3 linked regions of the Homo sapiens genome follow. The protein of the gene in region 1 interacts with the protein of each later gene in a pairwise test. Each region holds a gene or a part of one and is shown in the gene's direction. Other genes may lie near its edges.

The links. Proteins that work in one complex are often made in the same cells at the same time.
Region 2: the proteins of GABPB1 (region 1) and CIC interact in a two-hybrid assay, tested with the Homo sapiens proteins (one large-scale study listed by BioGRID and IntAct).
Region 3: the proteins of GABPB1 (region 1) and ERN1 interact in binary tests that used the Homo sapiens proteins (3 or more experiments, as listed by UniProt).

What each region holds. Positions count from the first base shown.
Region 1 is NC_000015.10:50,347,671-50,353,035, reverse strand, and holds part of GABPB1 (GA-binding protein subunit beta-1 isoform beta 2), read left to right. Parts: exon of another isoform or gene 1-4,100; intron 4,101-5,365.
Region 2 is NC_000019.10:42,288,667-42,294,031, forward strand, and holds part of CIC (protein capicua homolog), read left to right. Parts: intron 1-221; coding exon 222-424; intron 425-514; coding exon 515-740; intron 741-1,181; coding exon 1,182-1,285; intron 1,286-1,566; coding exon 1,567-2,800; intron 2,801-2,891; coding exon 2,892-3,079; intron 3,080-3,419; coding exon 3,420-3,541; intron 3,542-3,633; coding exon 3,634-3,800; intron 3,801-3,899; coding exon 3,900-4,193; intron 4,194-4,289; coding exon 4,290-4,615; intron 4,616-4,925; coding exon 4,926-5,170; intron 5,171-5,268; coding exon 5,269-5,365. UniProt on the Homo sapiens protein: Transcriptional repressor which plays a role in development of the central nervous system (CNS). In concert with ATXN1 and ATXN1L, involved in brain development.
Region 3 is NC_000017.11:64,040,114-64,044,229, reverse strand, and holds part of ERN1 (serine/threonine-protein kinase/endoribonuclease IRE1 precursor), read left to right. Parts: intron 1-29; coding exon 30-242; 3' UTR 243-4,116. UniProt on the Homo sapiens protein: Serine/threonine-protein kinase and endoribonuclease that acts as a key sensor for the endoplasmic reticulum unfolded protein response (UPR).

The sequences.
Region 1 (5,365 bases):
ATAGGAGGTACAGATTTTACAGAAAATTAATTCTGCAGTGAATCCTTTGGTGAAACGAACAGTTTGCAGAGACATATCCTTAGAGTTCTTTGTCTCTCTGAATCATTCTGGGTTTTCTAGGTTGGGAGACAATTATACTTATTGGGAGACAATTATACTTAATTGATTAATGCATAAAAATTTAAGGCCGTATTTTAATGGCTTTGAAAGGAAGCTAAGTTTGTTTCCAGTTGTTTCTGTGAACTGTAGTCTGAATCTGTCAGTCTATAGTTCTCTACTGTTCCATCAACAGGAAGCATCTGGTCATTCTTCGTGTAATTGTTAGAAAATACCAGGTGTACTTTTAATGTTTGCTGTTCAAACGAAAATAGATTGGATCTTGGTTAAGTTCACTTGGTTTGGCCAGGCACAGTGGCTCACGCCTGCAGTCCCAGCACTTGGGGAGGTGGAGGCGGGCCGATCACCTGAGGTCAAGAGTTTGAGACCAGCCTGGCTAACGCGGTGAAACCCCATTTCTACTAAAAATACAAAAAATTAGCTGGGCGTGGTGGTGCGCGCTTGTAATCCCAGCTACTCGGGAGGCTGAGGCAGGAGAATCGCTTGAGCCAGAGAGGCAAAGGTTGCAATAAGCCAAGATAGCGCCATTGCATTCCAGCTTGGGCAACAGGAGCGAAACTCTGTCTCAAAAAAAAAAAAAAAAGTATGCTTGGTTTTAGTGTGTTTTTTCCCATAACATTGTGTCATTGTAATGGACCACATCTCCTGTACCATGAATTTTTTTTTACTTTTTTCTTTTGCCCCTCAGTACCAGAAATATTAACAGGTAACAGGTAAAGTGCACGTCATGAGGAATTCAGAAATTCAGAAATTACATGAAGTTTTGCATCATGAATTTATTTTTGAGGGTGCACGAGGCAGTTACCCAGTCTCTGTTTGCAAGTAGCCTGAGTTCAGATGAACTCACTGATGGCCTCCATCTCTTCTGACTTTGCAAACGTTGAAAAACAAACCCACACAAAATCTTGAAGTTGAGAGCAACTTAGTTTCCTTAGTGTCATCCCTCTGCTCCCCTCTCCTCCCCAACAACTAGTATGGTTTCCAGCTAGTAATCACAATGTTTCTATAGCTCTGATGTGCCTACATTGGGATAGCTACAATTAGTATTATAGTTTTCTGAAGATGTTTGTTCCATCATGCTTTCTAGAAGGTAAATCTAGCACTAGATGAGATCAGTATTAGGGCCTGTGTTTTTTCTCAGTGTTGACATCACAGTGCTCTATACAAAGAAGATGCTTTGGTGCAATCAGCTGTCAGTTCAGTTGGTGGGCTAGTGCACCTTTCTGTCTCCCTCCCTCCCTCCCTCCCTCCCTCCCTCTTTCCTCTCTCCTTCTCCCTCTGTCCCTCTCCCTCTCTCTCCTTCCCTCCCTGTTTTCCCCTTTGCACCTCTTCTTTCTTTGACAGGGTCTTGCTTTCTCTGTTACCCAGGCTTAGTGCAGTGGTGCGATTATACTTCACTGCAAGCTCCACCTTTCAGGCTCGAGCGATCCTGCCTCTGCCTCAGCCTCCTGAGTAGTTGGGACTACAGGTACCTGCCAACATGTCTGGCTAATTTTTTAATTTTTTGTAGAGACGAGATCTCACTGTGTTGCCCAGGCTGGTCTCAAACTTCTGGACTCAAGTGATCCTCCCACCTTGGCCTCCCAAGTGTTGGGATTATAGGCGTCAGCCAACACACCCATCTGTGAATAATTCTGAAGTTGGTAGAACAGCTTATTGACAGAGCAAGGTGTTAGCCCCACTTTACTGTGTACTAGTTATATTATATTTGGGGTATTGTGTTGGCTTTTTGGGTAGCATACTATCATAAGTGAGACCTTGTATTCATTCTCAGACTTTATCAGAATCATCTGGAGAGCTAATAAAAAGCCACACAGAGGCCCAAACTTAAGTAGGGTAGGAACGGACCTTAATTTTTCTCATTTCCAAGGTGGTAGACACCTAAGTGTCAAAATCACTTATCTGTAGAGCATAAACGAGGACCTTGATCATGAGAGAAATGGAAATGAGAAAAAGTTGAAAAAATGGGATGTTTGACCTAAAGAAGAGGAGCTTCTTTTAAGAAGTAACAGCCACTTTTAAGGATTTGGAGTTCTGTCATGCAGAAGGATCAGATTTGACTTGACCAGAAGGAACTAGGGTCAGTGGGTGGAAGTTTAAAAGAAGCAGATTTCAATTCTCTTTCAAGATAAATTTCCTCAAAATTGTGAAAATAGAATGAGTTGTTTTGGGTGGTAGGCTGTTCCTGTTCACTGACAAATTGGGGATTCTAGAGTAGAGGAATCGTACTGAAGGAGAATTTGAGCTAGGTGTCTTCAAGTTACCTATAAACTTTGAGGTTTTATTAAATATGCCGAGGTTTACAGGTGGAAGAACAAAAAGCTAATTGAGTGAAACAAACTGGTTAACTTGATAATAGTTTTTGCCTTCCTGGATAAAGAGAAATGAGTATTAAGTGAGAAGGCTATTTAATGAAGGGCTTTAAACCACACTGTAATTTGGTAGATTCAGCAGCTTTAAAAATTGGCATACCTTCTGACATGGAAATTCCCTTTAAAGAATTTTTTTTTTGATGTAGTAAAGATGTGTGTGAATATTTAATTGTGAGCATACTAGATGCAGTATTGTTGATTATAAAAGCTGTGTATTAATGCCTTTAAGCCCCACGGTAATCATATGAAGTGGGTAGTACTATTTCTGCTTTTCAGAAGAAAAAACAGGCATAGAGAAATGAGGTTGCTTGCTCAAGGTACCTGAGTTAGTTAAGTGTTAGGGCCAGGACTTGAATCCAACCAGTGTGACTCTAGAGCCAGTACTATTGATCATTATATGGTAAAATTGTAAACAACCTAAATGTTTCACAGTGATTGTTAGGGTCCATCCCTACAGTGGGGTACTGCCTTCTCAGCCATGAAAATGATGATAGAATAATATAAAGACATGAAAGGATGTCTTGGTATATGTAAGTGAGAAAAAATAAATTTAAAAACATGATTCCATTTTGGTAAAAAAACCCAAAAATATATTATGTCTGGAAGGATATGTGCCAAATTGTTAAATGGTTATTTCTGAGTGTAGTTTTACAGGTGATTGTTTTCTTTTTGCTTATCCAAATTTTCTAACTTCTACAATGAATATAAATTATCTATCATGTTGTAATTAAGATATTAAGATGTAACTTTTCAATAAAAAATTAAATGTGTTAGCATAAGCTGAGAAATTTGGGTTTTATACTCTGCATTTTAAGCAAGTTTGTAGAAATTGTACATGAGAATTTGTAAATGCATGTAGTGTTTTGTAATTTTTTGTTTGATTCCTTATTCTAGAAGTAATATCAATTGAGTAGAGAAACATATCACTCCTACCACCCTACCATAATCAATTATTTTGTTGTGTGTTGTTACTCTTATGTGTAATATTTTAAATATTCATCCCAGTGTCATCCCAGTTAGTCATACTCTAGCTGTGTGATTTTAGGCAGTTTACTTAATCTCTCCGTGGCTCAGTTTCCTTCTTTGTAAAATGTGGATTATTATAATACTTAGCTCATGATGATTGGAAAGATTAAATGTTATTTCATATAAAGTGAACAGAACAGTACCTGAAACATAACAGTTAATAGCTCAATAAATGTTAGCAATTATAGGATCACAGTCCACCATTCAAACTCTTAGGGTCTAATAGGTTATGGAATTAGGAATTTTTTTTTTATATGGGCAAGGTAGTAATGTGTAGCCTTCCAATAGAGTCCAGTGCAATATCCCCCTTCAAAAGTGTTACTGTTTCTGCAACAAAATGTATGAATGTTCGCACTAAATAGGATAAAGACTGTAAATAGCTTCATATCAGTTTGGGTAAGGTTTACCACAAGATGAGTTATTTTGGGTTTCAGAAGTTTTTTGGATTTTTGGAATTGAAGATAAGGAACCTATAAAATATTAATTTTGAGTCCTATTTTATAATATTAAAACATCTTTTCATGGTATTTTATAGTTTTATAGTGCATGGTAAATTAAAGTCAATTAAAATGAAATAATGGAAAATGTCCACCTCCATCTCCTTTGATTTAAAAAATACTCAGCATACTGATACTATGATTTAAAAAAAATTTTTTTTTTGAGATGGAGTCTCACTCTGTCGCCAAGCTGGAATGCAGTGGCACGATCTTAGCTCAGTGCAATCTGCGCCTCCTGGGTTCAAGCGATTCTTCTGCCTCAGCCTCCCGAGTAGCTGGGACTACAGGTGCGCGCCACGACGCCCAGCTAATTTTTGCATTTTTAGTAGAAACGTGGTTTCACCATGTTGGTCAGGATGGTCTTGATCTCTTGACCTTGTGATCTGCCTGCCTCGGCCTCCCAAAGTGCAGCAATTACAGGTGTGAGCCACTGTGCCCAGCCAAAAAGTTTCAAAGTTTAAAAAAAAAAAAATGGCCGGGCTCAGTGTCTCATGCCTGTAATCCCAGCACTTTGGGAGGCCGAGGCGGGCGGATCACTTGAGGTCAAGAATTCGAGACCAGCCTGGCCAACATGGTGAAACGCCGTCCCTACTAAAAATACAAAAATTAGCCAGACGTGGTGTGTGCTTGTGTCTCGGCTACTCGGGAGGCCGAGGTGGGAGTATTCCTTTAGTCTGGGAGGCGGAGGTTGTAGTGAGCGGAGATTGTGCCACTGTACTGCAGCCTGGGTGACAGAGCAAGATTCTGTCTCCAAAAAAAATTTAAAAAACTACTCCTGTTGGTCCTGACTGTGATTCTATTTTAAAGAATATCTTAAACCCACTAATGCTGTGATTATATTACATAATGTAGAATCTTTTTCTGAAAGAGGCTTGAGCATTCCTATAACCCAATTAGCTTGTTTATGTCTCATTACACTTGAGGGATAAGATACTTTTACTATGGTGGTTTACTATAGTAGTGATTCTTTTTTTTTTTTTCCAGATGGAGTTTCACTCTGTCACCCAGGCTGGAGTGCAGTGGTGTGATCTAGGCTCACTGTAACCTCTGCCTCCCGGGTTCAAGTGATTCTCCCAAGTAGCTGCAGTTACAGGTGCCCGCCACCATGCCCAGCTAATTTTTGTATTTTTAGTAGAGACGGGGTTTAGCCATGTTGGCTAGGCTGGTCTCCAACTTCTGACTTCAAGTGATCTGCCCACCTTGGCCTCCCAAAGTGCTGAGATTACAGGTATAAGCCACTGCGCCCAGCCTATAGTAGTGATTCTTTAAAGGAGGTGGGTAGATGACACTGTGATACCTGTCTTTAATGCACCCATTCTGTGCATGTAGAGACTGAGGTGGTTGTAAAATTAC
Region 2 (5,365 bases), on another chromosome or scaffold:
TGCCCCCCAGGGAATGGGCCTGCTGCAACCCCAGAGGGCAGGAATCAGCAGGAATGAGATGCTGGACTGGTGGTGGGTGGTGGTTTTTTTTTTTCACCAAGTGGCCCAGAAATTCCAGCCTGCTTCTGCCTAGTACCTAGAAATATCTATGGGTTGTTGGGCCAGTCTAGGTGCTGGTGACAGGCTTACTGACTGTCATAGCGCCACTCTCTACTTTACAGTGTCCTCTGAGCTCCTGTCCGTTGCAGCCCAGACACTCCTGAGCTCAGACACCAAGGCTCCGGGGAGCAGCTCCTGTGGGGCAGAACGGCTACACACAGTTGGGGGACCTGGCTCAGCCCGGCCCCGAGCTTTCTCCCACAGCGGGGTACACAGCCTGGACGGCGGAGAAGTAGACAGTCAGGCGCTACAGGAACTGACGCAGGTCTAGGGTGCAGGCCCCCTAGTGGGGGTGGGCAGGGAACCTGTCCAGGGCAGCAGCCCCGCTGAACCCTCTCTGCCACCTATCCTGCAGATGGTGTCTGGCCCTGCATCGTACTCTGGCCCAAAGCCTTCTACCCAGTATGGAGCTCCAGGACCCTTTGCAGCCCCTGGTGAGGGAGGTGCCTTGGCGGCCACTGGGCGGCCCCCGCTGCTGCCCACCCGAGCTTCTCGTTCTCAGCGTGCGGCCAGTGAGGACATGACGAGTGATGAGGAGCGCATGGTCATCTGTGAGGAGGAAGGGGATGATGATGTCATTGGTGAGCATTGCAGGGCCCAGAATCTTGCCCAGGACCCAGCAGGCCAAGGCTCAGAGGGTGGGCAGAACTTGGATCCAGGCCCCTAGGCCCCTTTGTTTTCTTTTCCACTTGGTTTATGGTTGCATGTGGCCAGTTCAGGCCCTGCCGAGTAAATCCAGCCCTGCCCTCAGGAAGCCCCCAGCCCTGCAGGAAATCTGGAGGACAGGGGGCATGACCAGATCTTCAGGTGCAGTGTTAGGGGCTCTGTCCTGCAGGCTCATAGGCTCCTGCACTGGGCAGTGGGCACTGGGCATGTGGGCACAGCCCTGGGCTGAGGAGTAGCCTTCCTGGACAGCACTCCCTGCCGGTTTGGAGCAGAGCTGAGATCCAGGCTCCAGACTGTTTCTCCTGGGTCCCCCTGCATCTAGCCCCCTCCCCATACTGTTCCCTCCACTCCCTCAGCTGACGATGGCTTCGGCACCACTGACATTGATCTCAAGTGCAAGGAGCGGGTGACCGACAGCGAGAGTGGGGACAGCTCTGGGGAGGACCCAGAGGGCAACAAGGTGAGGGCTTGGGTCACGGTGCTGTCCCATCACACTCCCTCCTAAGCCATGGGAATGTCTGTTTCTCCCGGGCTTGAGAGAGGGGGAGATTAAGGTCCAGAGAGGGCAAGCTGCTTGCCCCGTGGGGAGTTGGGTCATAGTCAGGATGAATTGAGGCCTTCAGCTGGCAGGGGTGCAGCCCTAGGCTGGCCTGGCTGACAGGCTGGATGGGCATGGCTAGGGGGCTGCTATCGAGGTGTCGGAGTGTCCTGACCTGGGGTGTCTCCCTTCCTTTCATGCAGGGCTTTGGTCGGAAGGTGTTTTCACCTGTGATCCGTTCCTCCTTTACCCACTGCCGCCCCCCACTGGACCCTGAGCCCCCAGGGCCCCCGGATCCTCCTGTAGCCTTTGGCAAAGGCTATGGTTCCGCCCCATCCTCCTCTGCGTCCTCGCCTGCTTCCTCCTCAGCCTCGGCAGCCACCTCCTTCTCACTGGGCTCAGGAACCTTCAAGGCCCAGGAGTCTGGTCAGGGCAGCACAGCGGGCCCCCTACGGCCCCCACCCCCTGGGGCTGGGGGTCCAGCGACACCTTCCAAGGCAACCCGGTTCCTCCCAATGGATCCTGCCACCTTCCGGCGCAAGAGACCCGAAAGTGTGGGTGGCCTGGAGCCACCAGGCCCCTCAGTCATCGCGGCCCCTCCCAGCGGAGGAGGAAACATCCTGCAGACACTGGTGCTGCCCCCAAACAAGGAGGAGCAAGAGGGCGGCGGAGCCAGAGTGCCCTCCGCCCCCGCCCCATCACTGGCCTATGGGGCCCCAGCAGCTCCCCTGTCCCGTCCTGCCGCCACCATGGTCACCAATGTGGTGCGGCCTGTCAGCAGCACTCCTGTGCCCATCGCCTCTAAGCCCTTCCCCACCTCTGGCCGGGCTGAGGCGTCTCCAAATGACACAGCAGGTGCCAGGACTGAAATGGGCACTGGGTCTCGGGTGCCTGGGGGCTCCCCGCTGGGTGTCAGCTTAGTGTATTCGGACAAGAAGTCGGCAGCAGCCACCTCACCAGCCCCACACTTGGTGGCTGGACCCCTGCTGGGCACTGTGGGGAAGGCGCCTGCCACTGTCACTAACCTACTGGTGGGCACCCCGGGGTATGGGGCCCCTGCGCCCCCTGCTGTCCAGTTCATTGCCCAGGGGGCCCCTGGTGGTGGGACCACTGCGGGCTCAGGAGCAGGTGCTGGGAGTGGCCCCAATGGGCCAGTACCCCTGGGCATCCTGCAACCAGGTGCCCTGGGCAAGGCTGGGGGAATCACCCAGGTACAGTACATCCTGCCCACGCTGCCCCAGCAGCTTCAGGTGGCACCTGCCCCAGCACCAGCCCCTGGGACCAAGGCAGCGGCTCCCAGCGGCCCTGCACCCACCACCAGCATCCGTTTCACCCTCCCACCGGGCACTTCCACCAACGGCAAAGTCCTGGCTGCCACTGCACCCACTCCTGGCATCCCCATCCTGCAGTCTGTACCCTCCGCCCCACCCCCCAAAGGTGAGACCTGGGCCGGGCAGCACTAGGGGAGGGGCCATAGTCCTGTTTGGCTCCCTTGTAACCTTTTCCTTTCTTGCCTCTTAACTTCCAGCCCAGTCAGTTTCTCCCGTGCAGGCCCCGCCCCCGGGTGGCTCAGCCCAGCTGCTGCCTGGGAAGGTCCTAGTGCCTCTGGCCGCCCCTAGCATGTCAGTGCGGGGTGGAGGGGCCGGCCAGCCACTGCCACTGGTGAGCCCGCCCTTCTCAGTACCTGTGCAGAATGGTGCCCAGCCCCCCAGCAAGGTGAGGGCCTGCCTTTCTCTCTACCTGCTGGATGTTGGCCCCTGTACCCCATCATTTCTTTGTCTTTTTTTTCAGTCTTTTCTCCTTCTCCATGTATCTGGTTCTCTGTCTTGCCATCTTCCGTGATGTCTCTGTGCATCCTGACTCTCTCAAGTCCTCAGTGTCTGTACCCTCCTCCTTCTCTGTGTCCCCACCTCTCACTGTCATCTTGCCCATCCTGTTCTCACCCCAAGTTCTGTGTTCCTTGCTTTTGCTTAGAGTCCCACTTGAGGTCTTGGTCTTCCCCTGCCCCAGTCTGGGGCCACAGCTCACCCTGGCCTATGGGTGCCCTTCTCCACAGATCATCCAGCTGACCCCGGTGCCTGTGAGCACACCCAGCGGCCTGGTGCCGCCCCTGAGCCCAGCCACACTCCCTGGACCCACCTCTCAGCCTCAGAAGGTCCTGTTGCCCTCCTCCACCAGGTAATTGCAGCTGAGCCCATACTCAGAGGCCAGGGAAGGGGTGGGGCGGGGCCGGCTTACCTCACTCCTCCCCATTTCCTCTCCTGCGGCAGAATCACCTATGTGCAGTCAGCGGGCGGGCACGCGCTGCCCCTGGGTACCAGCCCTGCGTCCAGCCAGGCTGGAACAGTCACCTCGTACGGGCCCACGAGCTCTGTAGCTCTAGGCTTCACCTCGCTGGGGCCCAGCGGCCCCGCCTTCGTGCAGCCCCTGCTCTCAGGTGAGGGGCGGCCTGGCAGGCAGTGCTGGGGACCCAGGGTGGGGCTGAGGCAGTCCGGGCCCTAACTTGGTCTCCTGCTTCTTCTTCTCTGTCTTTCAGCAGGCCAAGCCCCACTGCTGGCTCCCGGTCAGGTGGGCGTGTCACCTGTGCCCAGTCCCCAGCTGCCGCCTGCCTGTGCAGCCCCCGGAGGTCCTGTCATAACAGCATTTTACTCTGGCAGCCCTGCACCCACCTCCTCAGCACCCCTGGCCCAGCCATCCCAGGCCCCCCCAAGCCTGGTCTACACTGTGGCCACCAGCACAACCCCACCTGCAGCCACCATTCTGCCCAAGGGCCCGCCAGCCCCTGCCACTGCCACCCCAGCCCCGACTAGCCCTTTCCCCAGCGCCACAGGTAGGTGTCAGATCAACCCAGAGCAGAGTGAGTTGGGGGACCCAGGGGATGGGCTCCAGTCAGGCCTGGCTCAGCAAACAATTTTCTCCCCACTAGCAGGTTCCATGACCTACAGCTTAGTGGCCCCCAAGGCCCAGCGGCCCAGCCCGAAGGCCCCCCAGAAAGTGAAGGCAGCCATCGCCAGCATTCCCGTGGGGTCCTTTGAGGCAGGTGCCTCTGGGCGGCCTGGCCCTGCACCCCGGCAGCCTCTGGAGCCTGGCCCAGTCCGAGAGCCAACTGCCCCAGAGTCTGAGCTTGAGGGGCAGCCCACACCACCAGCCCCTCCACCCCTGCCAGAGACCTGGACTCCCACGGCCCGGAGCAGCCCCCCACTGCCCCCACCTGCTGAGGAGCGGACCAGCGCCAAGGGCCCTGAGACCATGGTGAGCGCCTGCAGGCCGTGGGGCTCCCACTGCCACTTGGCTGTGCCTCTCCATTGACGTCTTTGCTTTTCTGTCCTACTCTTCTTTCCATGCCTGTGTGTCTCTCAGGTTAAAGGGTCCCCTCTGTCCCTTCTGCCTGCCTGTGTTGTCTCCTCTCCCATCTGAGGCCCCTGTCTTGGCCTTCCTGAGGCCGTGTGACAGCCTTCTCAAGGGGTCTGCTGGGCGGGCTCAGATCCAACTCTTTGTTTCTGGCCTTTGCCCCAGAGTCTGAGCTCAGTGTTCGCCATCTCCCTGCCCATCTCCACCCCAGGCCAGCAAATTCCCCAGCTCATCTTCAGACTGGCGCGTCCCTGGGCAGGGCCTGGAGAATCGTGGGGAGCCTCCCACTCCTCCCAGCCCGGCCCCAGCTCCAGCTGTAGCCCCTGGTGGCAGCAGCGAGAGCAGCAGTGGGCGGGCAGCCGGGGACACCCCGGAGCGCAAGGAGGCGGCTGGTACTGGCAAGAAGGTGAAGGTGCGGCCCCCGCCCCTGAAGAAGACCTTTGACTCTGTGGACAAGTGAGCATGGGCTGGGGCCTTGGTGGAGCGTGTTAGGGTGGCGGGAGTGGGAGCAGCTGCAGGCTGAGGCGGGGGAGGTGACCCTGCCGGCCCTCCAGCAGGGTCCTGTCAGAAGTGGACTTCGAAGAGCGCTTTGCTGAGTTGCCTGAGTTTCGGCCTGAGGAGGTGCTGCCCTCCCCCACCCTGCAGTCTCTG
Region 3 (4,116 bases), on another chromosome or scaffold:
AATCTCCCGAGCTTTCTAACTCTTTGCAGAAGCACCACTACCGGGAGCTGCCTGCAGAGGTGCGGGAGACGCTGGGGTCCCTCCCCGACGACTTCGTGTGCTACTTCACATCTCGCTTCCCCCACCTCCTCGCACACACCTACCGGGCCATGGAGCTGTGCAGCCACGAGAGACTCTTCCAGCCCTACTACTTCCACGAGCCCCCAGAGCCCCAGCCCCCAGTGACTCCAGACGCCCTCTGAGCGAGGGCGGCCCCTCTGTTCTGGTGGCCCCAGCTGTGACTGAGGGCCTGGTCACCACAATTAGAGCTTGATGCCTCCCGGCTTTGCAGGGAGACCAGGCTTCCCAAACCAAGTGCCTTGAGCTGCCTGCTCTGCAGCCCACAGAGGACAGTGCTGACCCCAGGAAGTGGGAGAAGTGGCCCCTCGTGACCTACAGGGAACTGGGAAGATGCTGGCCCCAAAAGCCTTACGGTCATGATGTCTGCAAAGGAGGGCCTCAGAGACAGCGCGAGTAGCACCCCCAGCCATCTACTGGATAAACTTGCTTCAGACTTTTTAAATTCCTGCTTAATGTCAGTCTACAGGCCTTTCAGGAAGGGAGAGGAGGGAATCGTACATTTTGCTTGCGTGCTGGGACAGCTAGGCTGAGATGCACCAAGTACAGCCTTCACTGGAGACCGGAATTGAGAGGTGGGGGATGCTGAGGAGGGGGAGGACGGAGTTCAGAGGGTGTCGTCCTGCAGTGTGAGATTTCTCATTGATCACAGATGTGCCCAGAGTAGCCCAGGTCACTGTTAACTAGTGTTTCTGCAGAGGCAGCAGGAGCCATGAGCATGAGGTGTGGCATTAGGGACTGGTCAGCTATGCATGCTGGCAGGTGGGGTTGTGTCTGCAGGTCTCAGAAATGAAGAGGCTGCTCTGTTCTGGAGGCAGCCGTGGCCCAGTGCCAGTGGCCAGAACAGTGGCCTTTGGTGGGTGTGTCCCGGGCCATCTCGGGGTGGTGCTCAGGAGCGCCTGGGGCAAGAGGTAAAGAGTTCCCTGGCCTTCAAGGAGAGCAGCGAAGACCCAGACAGGGGCCAGCCTTCAGGACCAGAGGGAGGCCGCCGAATGGGACCCTCCTGGTCACCAGGAGAAAGCCCTGGGCCAGCGAGTAGGCAGTCAAACTCCTTCGTCCCCAAGGCCGGTGGAACAAGAGGCTCGTGGTGAGTCAGGGCCAGGGTGGGTGGCCAAGGCCAGGGTCACCGTGTGCTTCATGGGCCAGCTTTTTTGTTTTTCTTGGCAAATTTTAATAACTATATTTTGATTATACTGTAGAATGCTATGTCAGCATAAGTAAGCTAAACTTGAAGCTTTCTTGTGAAGAATAAATGCAAGATAGAATACATCTTCTATTTTTTGTGGTACCAAAAATCACCATCCCCTCAAGAGTGTTCATGTATAGAACATTCTCTAATGCTGAAGAGTAAAACATTATAGCAACACTATGTAAATGTATTGAACAGTATCAAAGAAATAGTCTCTAAATTGTTTGTACCATATTTTTTTTTCTAAACTTAACATAATTTTTAGCTTTAGTTTCAGTCAAAACTTTGTCTTTTCTCTCCCGAGAGCCTTAGAGGTTAAAATGCAATCAGCCTACCGTGTAAGGAGATGTTGTCCATGTACTTTCTCCAGCCAGTTGGGGGATCATTGCAGCTCAGGCCTGGTGAACTCAGAGATTCCATTCAGTATTAAGAATGGGATTGTTGAATTTTACTCACAGAGAAATCACTGTTTCTTCATGTTGTAAGATGTTTTCTGTTTGTGTATTTGTATCATGGTTACTCATCAAAAGCTCTCATTCTGCCTTTGTAGAATTCAGTTCCCTTCCTTTCATCATAGCTAAAGTGACTTTTTTCCCTACTATTAACGTGATCCTACATCCTTAAATCTCATCGATTACCTCACTTAGGCCTTGGAACCTTGGCCCTTGGTCGGTGTCCTTGGCGTCTTCTAAGCAAGGCTGTGCGTTGTTCAGAAACGTGGCCAGACCGCATTTCCTGCTGCTCCCATGCCGCATGCCAGGTGGCCTGAGACAGAGCTCCCCATACGGCTGCAAGGTGCTTTACCTGTGGGCTTTGGCAGTAACCCAAGAGAGGATCAGAAGGTGGAGAAGGTGCCACGAGTGATTTAACAGGCCTGCCACAGGGAGTGCCCCCAGCCCAGCTCGTTCTCAGCACAGGTTTTCTCTTTGGGAGTACCCAGGTGATTTCTAGTGACCCAATTTTGTGTCATCTCCCTGTTTTAGCCCCACTTGCCTAGAGACAACTGTTTCCGATGCCTTTTCTGCTTATCATACTAGTTTCTAACCACGCAGATTTCTCAAAATCATTTATTCAATGTATTTTATTTGAGCACTTAGTGTATTGAGCTAGGCAGGATATAGGGTGCCGGAGATACAGCGATGAACAAGACAGGCAAAACTTCTGCTTTCCTAAAACTTGTGATGAGAGAGAACAATAAAAAAGTGTTGCTGCCACAAAGAAACCAAAGTGTGTGGGGAAGGGCGCGTGTTTGCGGTTTACATCTCTTCTGTCCCAGAATCACAGGGATCTGGTCCGGTCACCTCTGGTCTTTCCTCTTAGTCGCCTTTAGGAGCCCTGGTTCCCGTCCATCCTCTGGGGGGTTTGTTTGAAGAGATCTCGTGTGGGTACTTGTCATGAAAACACCTTGGGCATCATCTGGTGTATCCAGTTCTAGTCTCGAGAATTCTGGTTTCCCACTGTGCTCAGCAAGTGGAAAGTTCTTTTCAGGCCAGAACAGCTCTGCACCATCACATATCGTGTTGCGGCTTAGCTGTTTGGTCTGTAGTTCAGGTTATGGGACTTCTCCAATCCTGGAAGGCTGTTGAGCTTTTTAGAAGTACTGTACGCTATCTTCAAGATGGAGCTTGGTCACATCTGTTAGGAATCCAAAGGACACTATGACTTATTTAAATCTTGTCTTACTAAACCTCTCTTGGGCACGTGTGCCAGAATTTCTCTTGTTGCTTCTTGAGTCTTTTTAATTTCAGTGTTTTTTCGTTTGTTTTTTGTTTTTTTGAGACAGAGTCTCGCTCTGTCACCCAGGCTGGAGTGCAGTGGCACGACCTCAGCTCACTGCAACCTCCGCCTCCTTGGTTCAAGCAATTCTCCTGCCTCAGCCTCCCGAGTAGCTGGGATTACAGGTGTGTGCCACCACGCTCGGCTAATTTTTTATATTTTTTTTAGTAGAGACGGGGTTTCCCCATGTTAGGCAGGATGGTCTCGATCTCCTAACCTCGTGATCCGCCTGCCTCAGCCTCCCAAAGTGCTGGGATTACAGGCTTGAGCCACCGCACCCGGCCTAATCTCAGTTTTTGAAGTGCTCCACAAGTCATTAGGCACCAAAACATTTTCACCTGGGGAACACTGGCATTTCCCTGATTAGCTGTGAAGCAATCTAGTGGCTAAGTGTGAAATCCTGGGTGCGCAGGTGTTCTCACTCCCGCCGTGTTCTCAGTGCAGTGGTGGTCAGAGGCCCTTCCAAGGAGACATCACTCTGATCAGTTACAGATAGATGTTCTGGAAGATCTGCAGGTGAGTAGATCCAGCAGAGTTTCTTCCCACCAACTCTAGAAGAAAGGGCCTTATCAGAGTTGACCCTGAGCCTTTGGTAAGGTTTTGTGTGCATGCGATTCAGTTATCTTTGGCAATTCTTTTCTTGCTGCAGTGAGAGATTAATTGGTTGCTGATCAAACCGTTCATGCAGATGGGGGGACCTTTGGATTGTACGGCTTTCTCCTCTTGGCTGCTTTCTTTTCAGGAAGTTGGACTTTGGCCAGGTTTGGCTTTCCCAGAGCCGTTCCTTTCTCTGTCCTTTCCTTGGGTCCTCATGGTGTGCCCATTGGATCCTTGGCCTTGTGATCCTCTGGGAACTGGGGGCCAGTTCCACTTTTGCAGCCTTCTGTGCTGGAAGAGAAGCCCAGCGCCCTGGAAGGAGCCTCTTTAAGTCCCCCATGTCGCTTTCTCTCTCTGCTCTTTTAGTGTCTGAGATTGCCTTTCTTTGAATTTCCCAGTGTTTCTTTTCCTTGTCCCTTCCCTCACCAACCTGGAGT